Linked DNA regions of Homo sapiens: regions 1, 3 and 4 are each linked to region 2. The links come from fine-mapping of genetic effects on gene expression. A gene starts in region 2. Each other region holds a variant in brackets. All regions are shown on one strand. Distances are from middle to middle. Region 1 has its middle 26 kb from the start of TP53INP1. Region 2 holds the start of INTS8 (integrator complex subunit 8). Region 3 overlaps INTS8 (integrator complex subunit 8). Region 4 overlaps INTS8 (integrator complex subunit 8).

What was found. PIP is the estimated chance that this variant, and not a neighbour inherited with it, causes the effect.
Region 1: its variant is the best candidate, but not a certain one, in a credible set for the expression of INTS8 in tibial artery (GTEx, PIP 0.56).
Region 3: its variant is the best candidate, but not a certain one, in a credible set for the expression of INTS8 in esophagus muscle (GTEx, PIP 0.73).
Region 4: its variant is the best candidate, but not a certain one, in a credible set for the expression of INTS8 in whole blood (TOPMed, PIP 0.83).

What each region holds. Positions count from the first base shown.
Region 1 is chr8:94,920,612-94,925,875 of GRCh38, reverse strand. It overlaps a transcript of NDUFAF6 not described here. Among named protein-coding and RNA genes, the nearest start is that of TP53INP1, 26 kb to the left of the region's middle. The variant G/T (reference allele first, on the strand shown) is at 2,940.
Region 2 is chr8:94,819,967-94,825,205 of GRCh38, reverse strand. It overlaps INTS8 (integrator complex subunit 8), which reads right to left and starts at 1,919. Exons shown (of 27, transcript NM_017864.4): 1 at 1,645-1,919; 2 at 139-313. The coding sequence starts at 1,774. RefSeq lists an enhancer at 1,273-1,332 and a silencer at 1,493-1,882.
Region 3 is chr8:94,873,428-94,878,427 of GRCh38, reverse strand. It overlaps INTS8 (integrator complex subunit 8), which reads right to left. Exons shown (of 27, transcript NM_017864.4): 22 at 4,951-5,000; 23 at 3,826-3,876; 24 at 2,281-2,354; 25 at 2,143-2,207; 26 at 1,939-1,982. Among named protein-coding and RNA genes, the nearest start is that of CCNE2, 19 kb to the left of the region's middle. The variant G/A (reference allele first, on the strand shown) is at 2,349.
Region 4 is chr8:94,863,208-94,868,207 of GRCh38, reverse strand. INTS8 (integrator complex subunit 8) reads right to left here. Exons shown (of 27, transcript NM_017864.4): 17 at 2,518-2,702; 18 at 2,017-2,050; 19 at 1,012-1,068; 20 at 871-932. Among named protein-coding and RNA genes, the nearest start is that of CCNE2, 29 kb to the left of the region's middle. The variant A/G (reference allele first, on the strand shown) is at 2,649.

The sequences.
Region 1 (5,264 bases), 100 kb before region 2:
ATTTTATATATGTTTTTAAAAGCTTGTATATATTAAGGCTGGGCGCAGTGGCTCATGCCTGTAATCCCAGCAATTTGGAAGGCCAAGGCAGGCACATCGCTTGAGGCCAGAAGTTCGAGATCAGCCTGGCCAACATGGCAAAACCCTGTCTCTACTAAAAATATGAAAATAAGCTGAGCGTGGTGGTGTGCACTTGTAGTTTCAGCTACTTGGGAGGCTGAGGCAGGAGAATCCCTTGAACCTGGGAGGCGGAGGTTGCAGTGAGCTGAGACTGCGCAGCCTGGGCAACAGAGCAAGACTCTGTCTCAAAAAAAAAAAAAAAAAAAGGATTTCTTTTTAACCTAAAATGAGGAATCACTTAAGTGAACAGGAATTGGATGGTGATCCCCAACCAGTACCTTTCCCTCCAATCAATGTTTAAAAATATAGAATGTAATACACTGGCTTTAGCCTTTTTGAAGCCAGGTGGATGAATTCCCAATGGATCTTCTCCCAAATGAATGGAGATGGAATCTTATAGAAGTGTTTTAGGACAATATGGCCTTCCCTGATGCCATTGATACCCCTATTGTGGAGCTCTAGTTTCAATAGGCCAGTAAACATTCAGAATAATGGAACACGAAGCCCAAAGAATAACTCCCATGTGAATGAATGTTTGGGGCAGATCAGCATTCTACAACTGTAGCTTATTTAAAGTCAGATTTTTATTATCTGAGTCTTTGCTGAGATGAAAAGATTGGGTGCCAGGGGTAAGAAGGAGTCACCCAAAGATGAAAATAAGGTCATGAACGTTGACTTGAGAAGCAGCAGGTTGAAATGAAAGCCCCACTTTGGGCTGGGCATGATGGCTCGTGCCTGTAATGCCAGCACTTTGGGAAGTTGAGGCAAGTGGGTCACCTGAGGTCAGGAGTTCAAGACCAACCTGGCCAACATGGCAAAACCCCATCTCTACTAAAAATACAAAAATGAGCCAGGCATGGTGGCACACGCCTGTAATCCCAGCTCCTCGGGAGGCTGAGGCAGGAGAATTGCTTGAACCCAGGATGTGGAGGTTGCAGTGAGCCAAGATCATGCCACTGCACTCCAGCCTGGGCAACAGAGTGAGACTCTGTCTCAAAAAACAAAACAAAACAGAACAAAAACCCTACTCTGGAATGGCAGGGGAATGGCTGCTGCTGAGAAGACTGTTGCTAGGCCCACTTACAGAGTGTCCAGGGAATCTAGCAGCTTGATCAGGTCTCAAGGCAGTGACTGTATGGAGTCTAGAAGTGGGCAGTCAAACATGAAGGTGGCTTGTGGGGATGGGCACATCAAGGCTTCACAGTTTGATATGTGGCCTAAGATTATCTTGCTCCTTTGCTGTAAATTTGTACAGACCACAAGGTTATTCATTGAAACACTGTCTGCTGTAAATGCAAAATTGAAAAACCTAAATGCTATGCATAGATTAGTTGAATATATTATAACACATCCCCACAATAGAGGTCAATGCAGCTTTTTTAAAAACTGAGGAAGGGGCCGGGTGCGGTGGCTCATGCCTGTAATCCCAGCATTTTGGGAGGCCGAGGCAGGCAGATCACAAGGTCAGGAGATAGAGACCATCCTGGCTAACACAGTGAAACCCCGTCTCTACTAAAAATACAAAAATTAGACGGGCGTGGTGGCGTGCCCCTGTTAATCCCAGCTACTCAGGAGGCTGAGGCAGGAGAATCGCTTGAACCCGGGAGGCGGAGGTTGTAGTGAGCCAAGATCGTACCACTGCACTCCAGCCTGGGCGACAGAGCGAGACTACGTCTCAAAAAACAAAACAAAACAAAACTGAGGAAGAGCTTTATGAACTGCTTGATTTGATTTCTAAACATACTCAAGTGAAAAAAAGCAAAATTCAGGCTGGACGCAGTGGCTCACGCCTGTAATCCCAGCACTTTAGGAGGCCAAGGCGGGTGGATCACAAGGTCAGGAGTTTGAGACCAGCCTGGCCAGCATGGTGAAACCCGGCCTATACTAAAAATACAGAAAAAAAAAAAAATTAGTCGGGCGTGGTGGCGGGCACCTGTAGTCCCAGCCACTTGGGAGGCTGAGGCAGAAGAATTGCTTGAACCCAGGAGGTGGGGGTTGAAGTAAGCCAAGATCCCCTCACTGCACTCCAGACTGGGCGACAGAGCGAGACTCTGTCTCAAAAAAAAAAAAAAAAGTAAAATTCAGAGTATCTATTGTAAGCTACACTTCATGTAAGAAAGGAATATAAGAAAACACACCACTATCAGCTCATTATGCAAAAGAAATACAGGAAGAAAAAGCCAGAAATGAAGGAGTGGTTACTTACAGAGGGTGGATAAAAAGGGTTGGAATAGAAGACAGGAAGTGGAATAGGTTAGTGGGGATGAGAAGAGAGCAACATTTCTTTGAGCATCTAGTTGTATAGATAGCTTTGGCCTTTAGAACTATTAGTAATGTTTCCAACAGTTCTTCAGTCATACTAGTAGTATTTCAAGTGCTCCACAGCCACATGTGGCTAGCAGCTACCATACTGGACAGTGCAGATAGAGAACATTTCTATCATCCAAAAGGTTCTGTTGGACAGTTTTCTCTGGACCTAACAGTTCCACAGACTCTATATAGCAATCTTGGACCACTACTCTGCTAACTTTTTCTCACACCTTACCTGCTTCATGCTATCAGAAACATTCAGGTTGTCACCACCTTTCTTCATGGCCACCCTCCTTCCTATCCGGCCTACAGACTCCCATCTGCACGATTTTGGCCATTCTCATGGTCGCATGTCAACTTTCAATCGTTTCTCTTTCCGACATGCCTGTTCTGCTAACCTCCAACTACAAGTCAATCTGAATGCAAGGCTTGCTTCTACATTTGAGCTGCCTAAGAGCAACTGGAAAAAAAAATGACTCTTGTGGGGATCACGGCCATGAGACATGGAG[G/T]GGGTACGAGCTCAAGTGCCAGTTTGGCAATTCTTTTGTGTGCAACTGGTCAATTCTCTATACGATTCCTTCTCTACTCTCAAGATCCCTAACATAGTGCTTATCAAACTTTAAAATGCAAACAAATCATCTGGGGGATCCTGTTAAAAATGCAGATTCAGCCAGCGCAGTGGCACATGCCTGTAGTCCCAGCACTTTGGGAGGCCGAGGTGGGTGGATCACCTGAGGTCAGGAGTTCGAGACCAGCCTGGCCAATGTGGTGAAAGCTCATCTCTATTAAAAACACAAAAATTAGTTGGGTGTGGTGCCGGGCACCTGTAATCCCAGCTACTCAGGAGGCTGAGGCAGGAGAATTGCTTGAACCCGGGAGGCGGAGGTTGCAGTGAGCCAAGATTACACCACTGCACTCCAGCCTGGGTGACGGAGTGAGACTCTGCCTCAAAAAAAAAAAAAAAAATTGCAGATTCTAATCCAGTAGGTCTGTTGTGTATGGGGCCAGAGATTCTGCATTTCTAGCATGATACGCATGCTGCTAGCTCAAGAGCCATGAGCAGCTAGGCCCTAACCCAGTGGTTCTCCAACTTCAGTGTGCACAATTTCCTGCAGCGCTTATTGAAACACGGATTTGGCCGGACTCGGTGGTTCATGCCTGTAATTCCAGCACTTTGGGAGGCCAAGGTGGGCAGATCACAAGGTCAGGAGATCGAGACCATCCTGGCTAACACGGTGAAACCTCGTCTCTACTTTAAAAAATACAAAAAATTAGCCGGGCGTGGTGGCACATGCTTGTAGTCCCAGCTACTTGGGAGGCTGAGGCAGGAGAATCCTTGAACCCGGGAGGCGGAGATGGAGGTTGCAGTGAGCCGAGATCATGTTACTGCACTCCAACCTGGGTGACAGAGTGAGACTCCGTCTCAAAAAAAAGAAAAAAACAAAAAAACACGGATTGCTGGACCCCATTTCTGAAGTTTCTAACTCAGTAAATCCAGGATAGAGCCTGAGAATGTGTGTTTCTAATAAATTCCCAGGTCATGCTGCCACTACTATTCCAGGGAATACACTTTGAGACCATTGCCCTAAACCACTGCTGGCCTTCTGCCTCCTATTTCACAGAGGCAATTGAGGCTAATGAGTGAGAAGCCCTATTTGAGCTCCTGTGACACCTGCTCTTCCCATATTTCAGCCATCATCACACTACTGAAGGATGTTAATCTGCATTTTTAGTAGGATTCCCCAGATGGTTTCTTTGCATTTTAAAGTTTGATAAGCACTGTGTTATGGATCTTGAAGAGAGTAGAGAAGGCATTGTATAGAGCATTGGCCAGAAGAATTTATTTGTAATTAAGAAAAACATTGAGTAAAGAAGGGATGTATTTGTGAACATTCTGCATCCATTTCCCTTCTGATAACAGTATCCCAATTTTCTTCTAGGGATCTATTTCTCCCTCCAGAATCGAGGTTAGTTTCAGATGGCATTCACTATTCCCAGCTCCAGGAGTAAGCATATGAATCAGGCCTGGCCAATCAGATATGCATTCCCCCTGGCCAAGGATAGCTCAAGGATAGGACTATGCCCCAGTCAAAGCTAGTAAGATACACTGAGGCTTTCTGGGACTGCCGAGAGAAGCTGAGACTCATCCCCACTTAACTTCAGTCAAGAAACACTTGAAGATTCGAGAACTATGGCAACTATCTTGCTCCACAAGTGGGGGAAGTTGACAGAGATACAGCCAATGTGCAAGAAGGACAGAAGGGGAGATGACTTGCCATAGTGACATAATTTAATATCTTGATCAAGCTCTACCCTTGGACTATTATGTGAGATAAAATTCCTTTTTGCTTAAGCTAGTTTGGGTTGGGTTTCTCTCACTTGTGAGTAGGCTGTTTGTATGTCTCATTGGCATCCAGTAGAGGACTTTAAGAGCTTTTTCTTAAATTTTCTTAAGGCTAGTTCTAGCCTTATTGAAGAGGATTAAGCAAGGTGATCCCAGAGCTGGAGAGGATGAAGGTGAATGCTTTAAGTGTGGAGATTGGTCCTAATAGGCAGCTAAAAACTATGAGCAGGGATGGGAATTAAAGGCTTTCATTTCTTCGGAGGCTCAGCTGCAGCTGAATGCAGAACCCTAAATGAGAGGCAGCTGCGGGATGCTCATAGAGAATGGCTGGCAACACAGCCTGTGAGCAGTGTGCAGCTTTCCAGGAGCAAGCTGGGGGTGGAGGGTCCAGTATAATAGGGCTCTGGAGTGGCATCCTGAAGCACCCATGCCTGGGCAGACATTCTGCAACAACACTGGGCTACAGCAGCCATGATGGAAAGCAGTGGGA
Region 2 (5,239 bases):
GTGCCGGGATTATTATAGGCGTGAGCCACGGCGCCCAGCACGTAATTTTTAAGAGCCGATATCATAAAAGCATATATAGAAATAAACCAAGATATCTAAATAGCACTTCAAATGAAATTTCACTGAAATCTTGGATACCTTTTCTCTAATATGTCTAAGTCCCACTTCAAATGTGCAGCAACTTTAAGAGCAAGTAGTTTTAAAATACGATTTCTCTTGTTATCAGGCGGAGGTTGAACTTGGTTTTGTTCATTAACTGAAGGTTTGGAAGCCTGTTCCAAAAACTGAACTATAAGTTGAACTGGTGCAGGATCTAGGGTTTAAAAGAAAATAAATTCTTAAATTTAAGTTTTAATTATGTAGATACAAAAGGATTCACTATTGGTTTGGTTTTTTTGGGGGGGTGGGTGGGGGGGGGGGGAGTTTGGGTTTTTTTTTTGCCACAAAAGGAATCCAAACAGCTGCGCTGTTAAAATGACTAAGGAATACGTATGTAAGAAGTGTGCCTGGGGGTTAAAGGAGATGCGGAAGAGTGGTAAGGAGGAAGGGTAACAGATTAGAGTGGAAGAAAGCAAAAAAAAGCACCTTACGGGGAAGAACATAACAGTCATAGATTTCTGGTTCTGCAAATAACCACTGCCAATTAGAAGAATGAGATATAAATATTAGAACTATTATTTTGACACTTAATTAGGGGGACCTCCATCAAGTGACCTCTCCGTACCTGCTTCTTCCAATGCAAAATAGAGGATCATTTTGAAGATTAAATTAAAGGAGGTAACGGATGTGAGCAATTAAGCACAGTGCATGGCACCCGGAAAGCACTCAACAAATTATCTTTCAAAAGGAATGAATTAAGGGCATTATACAGGTGCCAAAACTGCCTAAGTACACTAACTTCTTACACAGTGGTCTCTATCAGTGAAGGCCAGTCTGAGACTGAACAAGCCATATCTAGATTTGAATTTAGAGAAATGCTATCCGAGGAACTTACCTTTTTGTGCCAATACCTTTTTTGAGAATGCCTGGAGTTTTCCTCCTCCCCCATCAATCACACCCATTTAACTGGGCTATTAATCATTATCATCACTATACAAAGCCATCTTGCAAATGTGCAGCAGTTCCTACTTTCAAAGATTTTCTTTTAACTTACAGCCCAACTTTGGAATAAGAGTCAATAAAATTCCCTCACTGAAGAAAAAAATGTTTAAATAAAACCTAAGATAATAACTAGCGTCACGATCAACACCCAACAGCTGGTTTCTCCCCAGCTCCCTGAATTTATTCAGCTTGGGGTTGAAGGAGGCGTCTGGTCAGCCTCCCCGACCCAAGCAACCACAAGACCCGCCTCGCAGCCTCTAAAACCCCAACAGTAAAAAGGTAAATCGTAAAAAGGACCAAAGGGTTTAGGATGACAGCACCAAGCCCTCCCCTCCGGGGGTAGGAGAGCCTTTGTTTCGAGCTTTTCTTTGACCCTCCACCCGGGCATGTTTAAGGGAAGCGAGGAGCCCGGCCGGAGCTGGGCTCCTGTGCGCGCCTCCCAGGCCGCAGCTTCGGTGACCGAGAAGGCGGGGAGCGGAGGGAAGCTGGGCGGACAGCGCCGGTGGCCGGGTCCCGCTCCCCAGGTGCAGGCGCCGCGCTCACCCGGGCAGGGCTTGCGCAGATGTTTCTCCAACAGTGACTCCTCCAGCAGAAACTCAAACCAGCAGGTCTGCGGCGGGGTGCAGGGCCGGCTGGAGGTGGCCGCCTCCCGGTCCGCCGCCTCCGCGCTCATCCTGCCCCCGCCGCCGCTACCACCAGGGCCGCTTCCCGGCTCCAACCTGACACTTGGATGCGGGCCGGTGCCTGGGGTATGCGGAACCCGGTGGGAGAGAGGCCACCCTCCGAACGTCCCGGAAACTCACACAATCCAAAATGGCGGCGCGGGCCAGCCGGAGCTGCGGTCCTGGATCCGCCTCCCCGCGCCACCGCCGCGCCTTCGGACCAATCGTTGTTCGGGTTGGAAGGAAAGGGGCGTGACTAACCTTCGAACCACGCCTCCTCCCGGTTGCCATAGGAGACGGCGCCGCATGAAGCCGGGTCGCGGGTGGGTTTTCCGTGTTCCCTGACAGTTCTCCAGCGAGAAAATGAGACAACCTCATCTAGGGTTGCAACGGGCCTCAATATTTTCGTAAAGGCGAAGCGAAGGGTTCTAGTTGTGACCCAAGCAAAGTTTATCTCCTGTGCTTTCAATTTCCCCGTTCCCATTTCTGAGATTTCCTCGCACCTGGGTCCTCTCCTCAGATGCTCCCGCCGTCCTGCCGAGAACACCAGCTTCCCACTCGCTTCCTGGACGGATGGCAGCATACGGTGAGCAGCCCTTGCTGCTAGCTCCCGATACTTAGAGCCTAGTTGATCCTTTCGATATCCCCGCTAGAGGCGCTGTTAACCCTATACATTTACCTCCGTTCTGTGATGTTCTTGTATTTTTCATTAACGATTAAAACTGAAAAAAGATGCATTCATAGATCGTGAATACAAGGCCAGCCTGACCAATATGATGAAACCCCGTCTCTACTAAAAATACAAAAATTAGCCGGGCTTGGTGGCGGACGCCTGTAATCCCAGCTGCTCAGGAGGCTGTGGCAGGAGAATCGCTTGAACCCGCGAGGCGGAGGTTGCAGTGAACCGAGATCGCTCCATTGCACTCCAGCCTGGGCAACAGAGCGAAACTCTGTCTCAAAAAAAAATTTTTTTTAAGTAGCCGGGTATGGTGACACACACCTGTGGTCCCAGCTACTCAGGAAGCTGAGGCGGGAGGATCACCTAAGCCTAAGAGATTGAGGTTGCAGTGAGCTGTGATTGTGCCGCTACACTCCAGCCTGGGCAACAGAGTGAGACCCTGTCTCACAACGAGAAAAAAAAAAAGAAAGAAAAAAAAGGAAATCAGTACAGATTAACTTGACATTTTGACATTTGTATTACATATGTAAAAATAAGTTTTAATTAAGGAAGAGTTCATTATTCCACTACCATCTAATACAATAACAACATTATATATTTCAAGTCCCAAGGTGTTTTATTTAGACTCAAAAATGTCTTGCCATAAAAGTGTTACAGCACTGAACTCCCCTTTTCAGAGTGGGTAATTGAATACTTGAAGGTTGACAGAGATCTTGAAGTTTATTAAACTTAGAGACCATCTCTTAGAGGGAGTCATAACTTAAGACTTCATCAACATTGGAGGAGTCTAATGAACTCAAGCTTCCAGCCAGGGACTCTTGTCCCTCTAATGCAGGGCAGGTGACCCCAAATTGGAACTTCACCCCAGAGAGTTCTTTGCTTTGTCCAGGAAAGAATTCAAGTGTGAACCAGTGGTAGAAGAGAACAGCTTTACTGAAGTGGCAGTGTTACAGCTCTGTGACTGCCCCTGCAGAGCAGGGCTAACCCACAGGCAGTGCGCTGAGAATACCAGCTCAGGGAGGTTCTGCAGGCATATTTACACCCACTTTTAATTGCATGCAGATTAAGGGGAAGTTTATGCAGAAATTTCTAGGAAAAAGGTAGTAACTTCTGGGTCATCGGGTCATTACCATAGAATGGGGTGGCAATGCCCAGGTGTTGCCATGGCAATGGTAAACCGACATGGCACACTGTTGAGCATGTCTCATGGAAAGCTGCTTCAGCCCCATCCCTGAATTTGGTCCGGTGTCCAAACCCTGACTCCAGAGTCGCATCTCACCTCCTACCTCACTTCTGAGCAGTATGTTTGGAGGGTGTCTGTCAGAAGACCCTCAAAACTACCAGTTGCTTCTGCTTTGATGCAAGACACATATCCCAGCTGTGGCCAAGTTTGCTTGCCTGGGTCTGGAGTGACACATCTTTCCCTGTCAGTGTGTGACAATCCTGGTGTGGGTTCAGTGTTCTTGAAAGGTGTCCCAGAATGTCAAAAAGCCAAGGCTTCTTCAACTTGCTATGTCTTCGGCTCTCAGAAACAACAGAGGCAAAAGAAATATTTAAAATTTTGATTTAAAAAATAATACACTTGGAAAGATACCATCAGGAAAGTGGAATGACAACCCAAAGACTAGAAGAAAATATTTGCAAATCATGTGTCTGATAAGGGACTTACATCTAGAATATGTAAAGAACTCTTACAACCCAGCAACAACACAGTGAGTAAAGGATTTGAATTGGCCAGGCACGGTGGCTCACGCCTGTAATCCCAGCACTTTGGGAGGCCGAGGTGGGTGGATCACCTGAGGTCAGGAGTTCAAGACCAGCCTGGCCAACATGGTGAAACCTCATCTCTACTAAAAATACAAAAATTAGCCTGGCATGGTGGCGGGCACCTGTAATCCCAGCTACTTGAGAGGCTGAGGCAGGAGAATTGCTTGAACCCACGAGGCAGAGGTTGCAGTAAGCTGAGATTGTGCCACTGCACTCCAGCCTAGGCAACAGAGCGAGACTCCGACAGAGCGAGACTCCATCTCAAAACAAAAAAAAAAAAAAAAAAAAAAGGATTTGAATTGATCATTCTCCAAAGAAGATATTACAAATGGGCAATATGCACATGAAAATGCTCAATATCATTAGTCGTTAAAGAAACACAAATCATCGGCCAGGTGCGGTGGCTCACGCCTGTGATTTCATCACTTTAGGAGGCCGAGGTGGGTGGATCACAAGGTCAGGAGTTCAAGACCAGCCTGGCCAAGATGGTGAAACCCTGTCTTTACTAAAAATACAAAAATTAGCCGGGCATGGTGGTGATGCGTCTGTAATCCCAGCTACTCGGGAGGCTGAGACAGAGAATCACTTGAACCCAGGAGGTGGAGGTTGCAATGAGCTGAGATCATGCCACTGCACTCCAGCCTGGGTGACAGAGTGAGACTGTCTCAAAAAAAAAAAAAAAAAGGAAAGAAAAGAAAAGAAACGCAAATCACTAGCCTGGGCAACAACGTGAGACCCCATCTCTACAAAAAACACAAAAATTAGCCAGGCATGGCGATACATGCCTGTGGTCCCAGCTACCCTGGGAGACTGAGGTGGGAGGATGGCTTGAGCCTGGGAAGCAGGCTGCAGTGAGCTATGATTATGCCACTGCACTCTGGGCTGGGTGACAGAGCGAGACTTTGTCTCAAATAAATACATAAATAAATAAAGCAAAACAAAACTGTGTGAAATACCACTTCACACCCACTAAAATGGCTATGATCAAAAAGACAAAAATAAGTATTGGTGATGATATGAAATTAGAACC
Region 3 (5,000 bases), 53 kb before region 2:
TCACAAGGTCACCATTCCCAAGACTCTTAACATCCATGAGGACAGAGCCTGGCCAGTCTTCACTGGTATATCTCAAGCATAGAAGAGGTAAAGAAGTTACTGAGTATGGAAAAGGTAGAGAGAGGACAGGGGCTTAAACAGGAAAGTCTAAAAATTAGAGTCCACGAAGAGAATGTGGACCACTGAACTAGTGGCAGGTAAAACAAAAAAGCTGACGGGTTGGAGACTTGTTTGGCAGTGGCACCAGTCGTAGGACTTTTTCCAATAGTCTCAGTGGCCCAAGAAAATAAAACACGTAAGTTTCTGGACTTATGCAGGGCTAGGGCTTTCCCAGGTGAGGTAAAGGATAAAGGGAAGACGCTAAAAATATTGATCAAGAGTAGTTCTATCATAGCAGGGGTTCCCACACCTGGTTCATCACCAGACTACCCGGGAAACTTAAAAACTGGATTCCAGGGTCCCACTTCAGACCAACTGAATCGGTACCTCTCAGTGTGCAGAATAGTATTTGTTGTATTTGAGATGAGCAGAGAAGGGAAGATGGAAGGGAATGACTGGGAAAAAAATGTCACAAAACTCAATATCCCACTGATCGTGAGGGGCTCAGGAGCAAGGAAGTAAGAGAAGGATAGGTTATGGGCAGAGAGTGGGTTGCAGTATAAGATCTAACAGAACAATTGTGCCTGACAGTAAGACATGGCTTTGGGTGTGAGTGGCTGGTACAGAGTAAAAATAACACCTCATAGATGTGAGGCTGGCAAGGACTTGTAAAGCTCAGGGTGACAGGTAAATTCCTCACGTCTTTTGACACATGTAGAGGAACAACCAGATACTTACAGGAGCTAGTAAGGAAGTAAGGTATGAAGCATAAGGGTCTCAAAAAATGATACAAGTAGAAGTGGTTTGGAAATAGCAAAAAGGAGCTAGGAAAATTTTTCAATATTGCCTTCCAGCCCCAGGTAAATTAGAAAAGGGAGAATGAATTGCCTCCAATCAAGTGGAACTGGCCTTCACATTCTTTTTCCTTTTTGTTTTTAAGTGCTGTTATTATTGTTTCTTCTAAACAATGGGCATATATTTTAGTCCGAGTACAAAGTTTAAAAGACCCTTAATAAATAGCATTTTTTTAAATTAATATAAGTGAAAGAGCAAAGAAAAGATCTGTGGTGATACTGCCACAGTAAATGTTAGACAAGTAAATATGGCCATACAATTTAAAATGTTTTGGCCCATACATCAAATTTAGATAAAGAGTTCATCTAATCAGTGATTCTGGGGCACCTAATATGTGCCAGGCACCATTCTAGGGACCAACTATGACAAAACAAGTCCTTACCCTCCTGGGGAAATAGATATTAGGAAAATATACAGTATGTTAGATGTTGATAAGTGTTCCGGAGAAAAATGTAAAAAGAAATGAGAGTAAGAGTACTGGAGGGAAAAGGGAAGCAGAAATTGTTACTTTATAAGATGATCAGGAAAGGATGATTGACGAGAGATCTGAGGGAAGTTGGATGTTCTTGGAAGAGAAAATTTCAAAGCCCCTTCTTAGGTGGTGAATGTTCTTGGCTTGTTGAAAGAACAGGAGGGGTACTGGTGTAGCAGAAATTAGCAAGGAGGAAAAGTCAGACGGACAGGCTAGAGGTCAAGTTGTATATAGCCTTATAAAGCCATCGTAAGACTTTTAACTTTGTATGAGATGAGAAGCCATTGGAAAGTTTGGGACTGAGAAATGACATGATCTAACATTTTAAAATAATATATAATGACATGGAACAGTTAAAATTATCAAAAAAGGATCTTTTATAAAGTAAACACTGATAATAAAATTCTGGCAGTAACTAGGTACACAAAATCTATTTTTTGTTGGTTCACATCTTAACAATTGTTTAATATTCTGGAAACTGTACCACTGAAGAAAGGCATAAGGTAACTTACTGCAATTTGTCTTTTATCTGTTTCTCCTCTTTTATGATGAAGATCTAATGAATCAGTTAAGGAAAATAAATCTGATAGTATTAAATATAATGAGAGAATCTCAACTCATTTTCAGTTTTGATTTGGAAAATATACAATATTAAATATTCCTTTAATTTATAAAAATGGATCATTCTAACATCACACACATGGATGAAAGGATACAAGTCAAGTATTCCAAAATGGTAACATCCCATATGTAGTCGTAGTAGGAGTCCATAGCATCATGACTGAAAGACAGAATTCAGTTACTTCTTAAGCAGAAAAATGTTGACCTCATTATTTTTAAAATATTATTCATACCTGTTTTGTTCTTGCAGAGATTTAAACGCTGTTTTGTAGTCAATTTCTCTGAGGAACTGACATAAAAT[G/A]GCCACCTACATTAACAAAGATTTGAAAATGGTTTCATGTAATGAAAGCTTGGTTTTACAAGGTAATCTTGAATTACTCTTATATTAAGCCTTATAGATCACATTGAATCCGCTCATAGTTATGGATTCCATCCAATTTTAATTTCAAAAACCTTTATACACGTGTCTGTCTGACCAATATTCTCTTCATCAGTGACCTCAACCACAAATTTTAGAGGTTTGTTTGAATGAGAAGCTGGCAAAAAGCCAGTTCAGAAAACTGAAGGGGATGGAAAACTGCCAAGCAAAAGTGTCATGACATTCAAGGACATACAGAGTGTGCAATTAAACCTTTCATAGCTGGCAAGTATAGACGCTCATTTTGGAAAATTTAGGCTGCCAATCTGCTTAACATAGAAAACATTTCACTCAGGTCATAATGTCCATCTCTTTAAAAAATAGTTTTTATTAATTTAATTCAGAAACCATAAAAGTTACCCTCTTAAAGTACCCAATCTGGTGGTTTTTAGTATATTCACCAAGTTGTACAACCATCACCACTATGTAATTTAAAAACATTTTCATTACTTCCCCCAAAAAAGTCCATTAGCAGTCACTCTCCATTCCCTCTCACCTCAAGCCTCTGATAACCACTAATTTACTTTGTCTCCATACATTTGCCTACTCTGAACATTTCATATGAATGGAATCATAGACTATGTAGCCTTTTGTGTCTAGCTTCTTTCACTTAGCATAATCTTTCAAGGTTCAGCCATGCTGTACCACGTAACAGTAACTCATTCCTTTCTATGGCTGAATAATATTTCATTGCATAGATATGCTGCATTATGTTCAGTCATTCATCATTTGATGGGCATTAGGGTTGTTTCTACTTTTTGGCTATTATGAATGATGCTGCTGTGAACACTTGTGCACAATTTTTTCTGTGGACATATGTTTTCAGTTGTCTTGGGTATACACCTAGGAGTGAAACTGCTGGGTCATATAGTAATTCTTATGTTTACCTTTTTGAGGAACTGGGAAACTGTTTTCCTGAGTCTACACCATTTTGATGCTACACCATTTTATATTCCCACCAGCAACATATGAGGGTGCCAATTTCCCCACATCCTCACCAACATTTGTTTTTAAATGTGTTTAGATTACAGCCATCCCAGTGGGTAGGAAGTGGTATCTCATGGTTTTGATTTGCATTTCCCTAATGACTAATGCACATTTCTAAAGTATCTTTAAAAACCTGAAAAATGCTTTTTTCCCACTTAGGAGGTTTAAAGGTCAATGTTTTTAATTCATACTTTCATTTTAGTTGACATTCTATAAACTATTTAAAAAAATTTAAAGAATATGCCAAACTCTTACATACCCTAAGTGATTTTGATATGGAAAATAAAAGCTAATTTCCAGTTCAATGCTTTATATTTATTATAAACTCTAACATATGTAAAAATAAAACAACTTCATAATATTATAAACTAACCTGTGTGTGGCAATTCAGCAAAGAACAACATTTTATCATTCGTTTTATTACCTACAAAAGCAAAATTCTCATTATTTTCAAAAACCAGCTAACATGGATTCTAACAAATGTGTCACTCTGGTATGGGATGTCAAAAGAGGAAGCTGTGTGTGGAGGAACGGGGGATATATGGGAACTCTGTACCTTTTATTCAATTTTGCTGTGAACTTAAAAGTGCTGTAAAAAATAAACCAAAAATCTAATAAATGTTCAATCTTATTTTGAAAGCCATTATAAGTATTTTTAAAATATCATTTAAGTTATGGTACTGGTAGCCTACATCAGAGGAAATGGCAATGCATATCAAAAAAAAAAACGGACAAAATTTGACACCAGGTGCAGGAATGGGGAGGAAATGGGAAGAAGTAGGTCAAATGGCACAAATTTGCAATTAGATAGAAAAAGTCTAGCAAACTGATATACAGTATGAGGACTAGAATTCATTATACCATAATGTATACTAAAAAATTGCTGAGAGTAGATTTTAGGTGCTCTTATCACAAAAAATGGGTAACTAAGGAAGGCAATGGATATGTTTTTTTGTTTGACTGTAGTAATCATCTCACTGTGTATATTAAAACATTATTCTGTATATCTTAAATATATACCAAAGAAATTAGGAAAAAAAAATAGGGATTTAGGAGATAGAATCCACAAGATGTGAGAGCTAACTGGATGGTGGCAGGAGGGTCAGTAAAGAAAAAAGCCAAAAATGATAGTCAGGGTTTGGGCTTGAACTACTCAAATGGTTAAACAAAAATGTTTGGTATTTTGCAGGTTTTTTGTTTTTGTTTTTGAAAGGACAGGTGAATTTATTAGGAGTGTATTAGGAGTTTATTACTTTATGGTAAAGACAGACACAAATCAGTTTGGACAAGTTGAATTTGAGGTGTTTTGGGGGAATCAAGACAGCAATAGGTGCTAGAAATAAGGACAATGAAAATACACAGAGCAATGTGTTCTAGAGCCATGAACCTGGGACTTACGATCACATTACAAGGAAATGGGTAAGTTCAGCCAAAAGGGGACCCAGGAAGAACATATACAGGTAGGCAAGAAACCAGCCAGCCCACGAAAACAATTCACCTGGTCTGTATAAACATCAGGGGGCACAGCCTTGTTAAAGAAGTCAGAAC
Region 4 (5,000 bases), 43 kb before region 2:
AAAAATGTACATGATTTCTTCAAGTAAATGAACCCTTTTTCCTCCCCTAAAAAAAGTCCCCATCATCTTACTGTGATTCTCAGGTAGTGCATGCAAAAGGGAATATTTCTCAAAGTAATTAAAGAAGTTTAGTTTAGTTCCTACAGCAACTAAAAGAGATTGGGAGCCTTTTGATAACTGCAGCATTAGATGAGACATACAAAAAATTATGAAAAAAGAAATCACTTTCAAATAGATACTTGTAAAAGAAATAAGATGCTGGAAACCTGATAGAAAGTCATTCTTTCATTGGCCCCAATTTTCCAATTCTACTGAAAATCAGGACCACTTATATCTTCTGTTCCAAGGCTGATAAATCTTAACTCCTACTTAAGAGTTATGCTGGGCCAGGTGTGGTAGCTCCTGCCTGTAATCCCAGCACTTTGGGAGGCTGAGGTGGGCAGATCACTTGAGGTCAGGAGTTTGAGACCAGCCTGGCCAACATGGCAAAACCATGTGTCTACTAAAAATACAAAAATTAGCCAGGCGTGGTGGTGGGTGCCTGTAATCCCAGCTATTTGGGAGGCTGAGGCATGAGAATTGCTTGAGCCCAAGAGGCAGAGATTGCAGTGAGCAGAGATTGTACCACTGCATTCCAGCCTGGGCAACAGAGTGAGACTCTGCCTCAAAAAAAAAAAAAAAAAAAAGGGTTATGCCTTATCCACAATTTACAGGAAGATAATTATCATTATCATAATAGAGAAACACAAAGACTGTAGAATCTTAGATTTCTGGCCCTTTAATAAAATTATCTAAGGGTATCTATACTAGTCAGAATGGTTTCCAAATACATAACTCAATTAATAAAATAAAAGCTATACCACTACTTACTTGGGAATGGAAGATGGCCAAATAGAAATGTGTTCAGCTGTAATATCATTCACAATGTCCTCCTTTAAAAAGAAAAAAAAAGGTGTGATTTACAAAGAAATTTCTTTTAAATTTTTCTAAATGAAATTATGAAATACTTACCCGAACATTGTGAAGTTTCACAAAGAGTGATAAAATAATAGTCAAAACGAGTGGTTCCTATGAGAAAGAAAACACAGAATCCTTAAACAGTGTATGTATATTTATTTAATATTGCTCCTGTCAACCTCACAGACATCAAGCATTCTAAAAGACCCTTGCCTTTTGAAAATGTAGCATCTGTTTTAGCATGTGCTTTAGCACACTAAAAATCAACTTTTTAATCGCATGTGGGGGCGGGGCGTGGACCATAGCACATAATTTACATAAAATTAGCATAAATGTTTGGCTTATGGTGCTATCTCCACGCTCAACTCCTCACATGACTCTCAAGTAACTTTTTATCCCTTAAAATAATGTTCAAAGAGTGAAACCTAGGTTACGTCCAATAAGTAAATATGACATTGATCCTACTAAGCAAAAATTAAAGCCAGGCTTCACACATCTAGCCCCTATTATGAAGACTTCTTTACAATTTAAAGAAATACCTGCTCCGTTCACTAAAACATGGTAAAGTAAATGCAATACAAACTTTTCCAGTCAGAATATCCCACCCACCAATAATGATCACTGAAGAAAAGCACATTAACAGGTCACTTTAATAATTTAACCAGAGGCCAGGCAAGGTGGCTAACACCTGTAATCCCAGCACTGTGAGGGGCCAAGAAGGGATGATAATTTGAGACCAGGAGTTAGAAACTAGCCTGGGCAACAAGGGGAGACCTCATCTCTACAAAAAATTAGCTGGGCATGGTTACATGTGCCTGTAGTCCCAGTTCCTCAGAAAGCTGAGGCAGGAGGACTGCTTAACCTCAAGAATTAGAAGACGCAGTGAGTTACAATCACACCTCAGCACTCCAGCTTGGGTGACAGATCAAGACCCTGTCCCTTAAAAAAAAATTAAAAAACAAATAATAATTTAGTCAGTATTTGAAGTACCCAATAATTTTTAGTCATATTCTACAAAAACCAGCAATAGTAATTAGAGCAATTTTTAATAAAACTTACTCGTAATTTTTTGATAAAAGAAAGCAGTTCACTCCTACAAAACAAAAATTTTTGAATACACATTTAATATTAGAAATAAAAAATAAAATCAAGAAAGTAAATTATAGGTGAAGGTTTATTCTTAATGCTCCAATTCTGCAAGTGTGAAAAGGAATGTAATATTCTACTGTTATACTAACCTAATAACATTTCTTCCCTGTTTTAATCACATGTGAAGTCTTCAATACTATCCAACCTTAAATACTACTGATTTTGAATTCCAGTTGATTAAATGATTAATAGTTTCTTAAAATGACATATAAACAAAAGATCTTTCCAAAGGTGGCCAAGGCAGACAGGTTCATCACAGGTGAGTACTACAGAACTCGTAAGATTGTCCAACTTTATGATATACAGAATAAAAGCTGATGTTCTTGAAATCAACCTTTAATAGGTTAATAGTATAAATAGGATAAATATTAAGAACTCAAACACAACTAATAGAAACGTACCAATACATACCGATACATGATACCTAACGTAGATTCCCTCTGTTTTATTAAACTAACTCTGCCATCATTTCCTCGTTTGTGCTGACTGGACACACTACAGATTTGAACAACAACTTCCCAAAGGTCTTTGGCAGTCCGTCT[A/G]CTTTCTTTAGGGCCTGGAAGTTCTTTGCATGTAGCTGCTAAAAGCTGTCCAAGCTATAACATGAAAAACAAAATACACAAAAGATAATCTGTAATGTCGTGCACATTAGTTCTATTATCAAGGCACACTGGAGGAAAGATGGAATGACTGCCCAAACATACTAAGCACAGTTATTTTATGCTGTGCATTCTGTACAACCTTTGAGGAATTTAGGGCTCATTGCGTACTGACAGATCTGAATCTGAGAAAGATCCTCTGGTTCGAGCATACGAACTTTGTTTCTGAACAGTTATAGTCTAATGAAAACGAAAATGAGACAACGCAAAGAGATAGGTGATTTATTAAGTGGAAAAAAAAACGAGTTGCTAAATACACATAGTATGATCCCACGTTACATAGGGAAAAAAAAGTGTAATGGAAGGCATACACCAAGATGTTAACTGTGGTAAAAGCCCAGGGGGTGAGGTTAAAATAGTGCTCAGATCTCTCTCTCTCCCACGTGCAAATACACACACATACAACTTTTAATCACTAAAAAAAAAAATTGTTTCAACGAAAAAAATAAGGAAAGGAATAAGGAAACTGAAGTTGGCAGAATTAAGGGATATAGATTTAAAGCAATTTTTCTCTAAGAAAATTGGTAGCAACTGGGAATGGAGCTACTGCTCTTCTGAGGAGGTAGAATTAAGGCAGGACAGGTTACACAAAGTGACTGGTATGAATAAAGGCAGCCTCAATGACCTAGGATGTAGGGAGGACCCAGAAATAAAGAGTGGGAAAGCTAAAAGCAAAAGACAGGGAAAGATTGACTTACAATAAATTCAGAATTTCTTTTATTTTCTTTTCTTTTTGGAGGCAGGGTCTTGCTCTGCACCCAGGCTGGAATGCAGTGGTATAATCTTGGCTCACTGCAACCTCCGCCTCCCAGGCTCAAACGATTTTTGTGCCTCAGCCTCCTGAGTAGCTGGAATTACAGGCATGTGTCACCATGCCCGGCTAATTTCTGTATTTTTAGTAGAGACGGGGTTTCACCATGTTGGCCAGGCTGGTCTCGAACTCCTGGCCTCAAGTGATCTATCCGCCTCGGCCTCCCAAAGTGCTGAGATTACAGGCTTGAGCCACAGCATCTGGCCAAATTCAGAACTGGGCCCCTTTACCCTTGTTCATATTAACTTTTATACTCCATCGCTCTTGTAGAGGGTGCAGTAGCAAGGATAATTTCAAATCCATCAGGAACCCCTGGTTTCTACTTAAAATGGACCTAGGGGTCCCTACTGCTTAAGGCGGCTTTTTTAAGGAGGTGGCAAGATTGTGACAAGGACAAAAATTGGTGGTTTTTCTCTACATTTTTTTGTTATGAAAAATTTCAAACAGAAAAATAAAAAAAAAAGTTCAATAAATACCTGACACATTGTGACTATTCTGCCATGTTTGCTTTATATATCTACATAAATTTTTTTGTTAAACCATATTAAACTAAGTTAGACACAATATTTCATCCCTAAATACTTCCACATACATCTTCTAAGGACGAGGACATTCTTCTCCATAACCACAACTCTGTGATCATGCCTAAGAAAATTAACAAGAGTACTGTGGCTTTCCGAAGCTCGTGAGAATAACATAAAAACCCTGCCTATACTAGGTGAATAGACATGGACCAATGGCCTAGCAGGATATTTCATCCTGCAAGCTTACCTAAAATACTCTTCTCTGACAAATGGAATCACAATACATGCAGCTATTCACTGCAGTGTAATGCCAGGGCTACTGTAGCTCTTAGCTCAAATTCATCTTCTGTTGTCAGGGATCATATGCTTTAAGGTCACTGAATTTATTACATAAATTTAATTTAAAAAATTTTCAAAGTCTAAGGCCTCAAATCAATTGAATTCCACAAACATTCTTGAGCACCTACTATGTGTGGTGGGCATCATGGAAAGCACAACATAAAAATTAACTGCCCTGAAGCAGTTCATTGTCTTATAGAGAAGACAAGTGGATATATAACTTACTATTCAGCATAAACACAACAAAAGAAATAAGTCAACAGTACAACAGTAGCAGGATCAGTACAACAGTACAAAGGAAGCAGGAAGAGGAAGTGATTTACTCATTTACAGAGAAAAGAATATGGGAAAGCATCAGAGAAATCACACAAACACGCAAAGCTGGAAAGGACATCCTGGCTAATGTGACAAACAGCGTGTGCACAGGTGCAGAATGGAAACATGGCGTGGGCATGCTGGTGCTGCCAGCACAGGGCTGGAACGCCAAGGGGCAGGGGAACTGCACCTGGAGGAGGAGAAGCATGCACACCTTAAGAAGCCTGGTAGGCCACATGAACAACC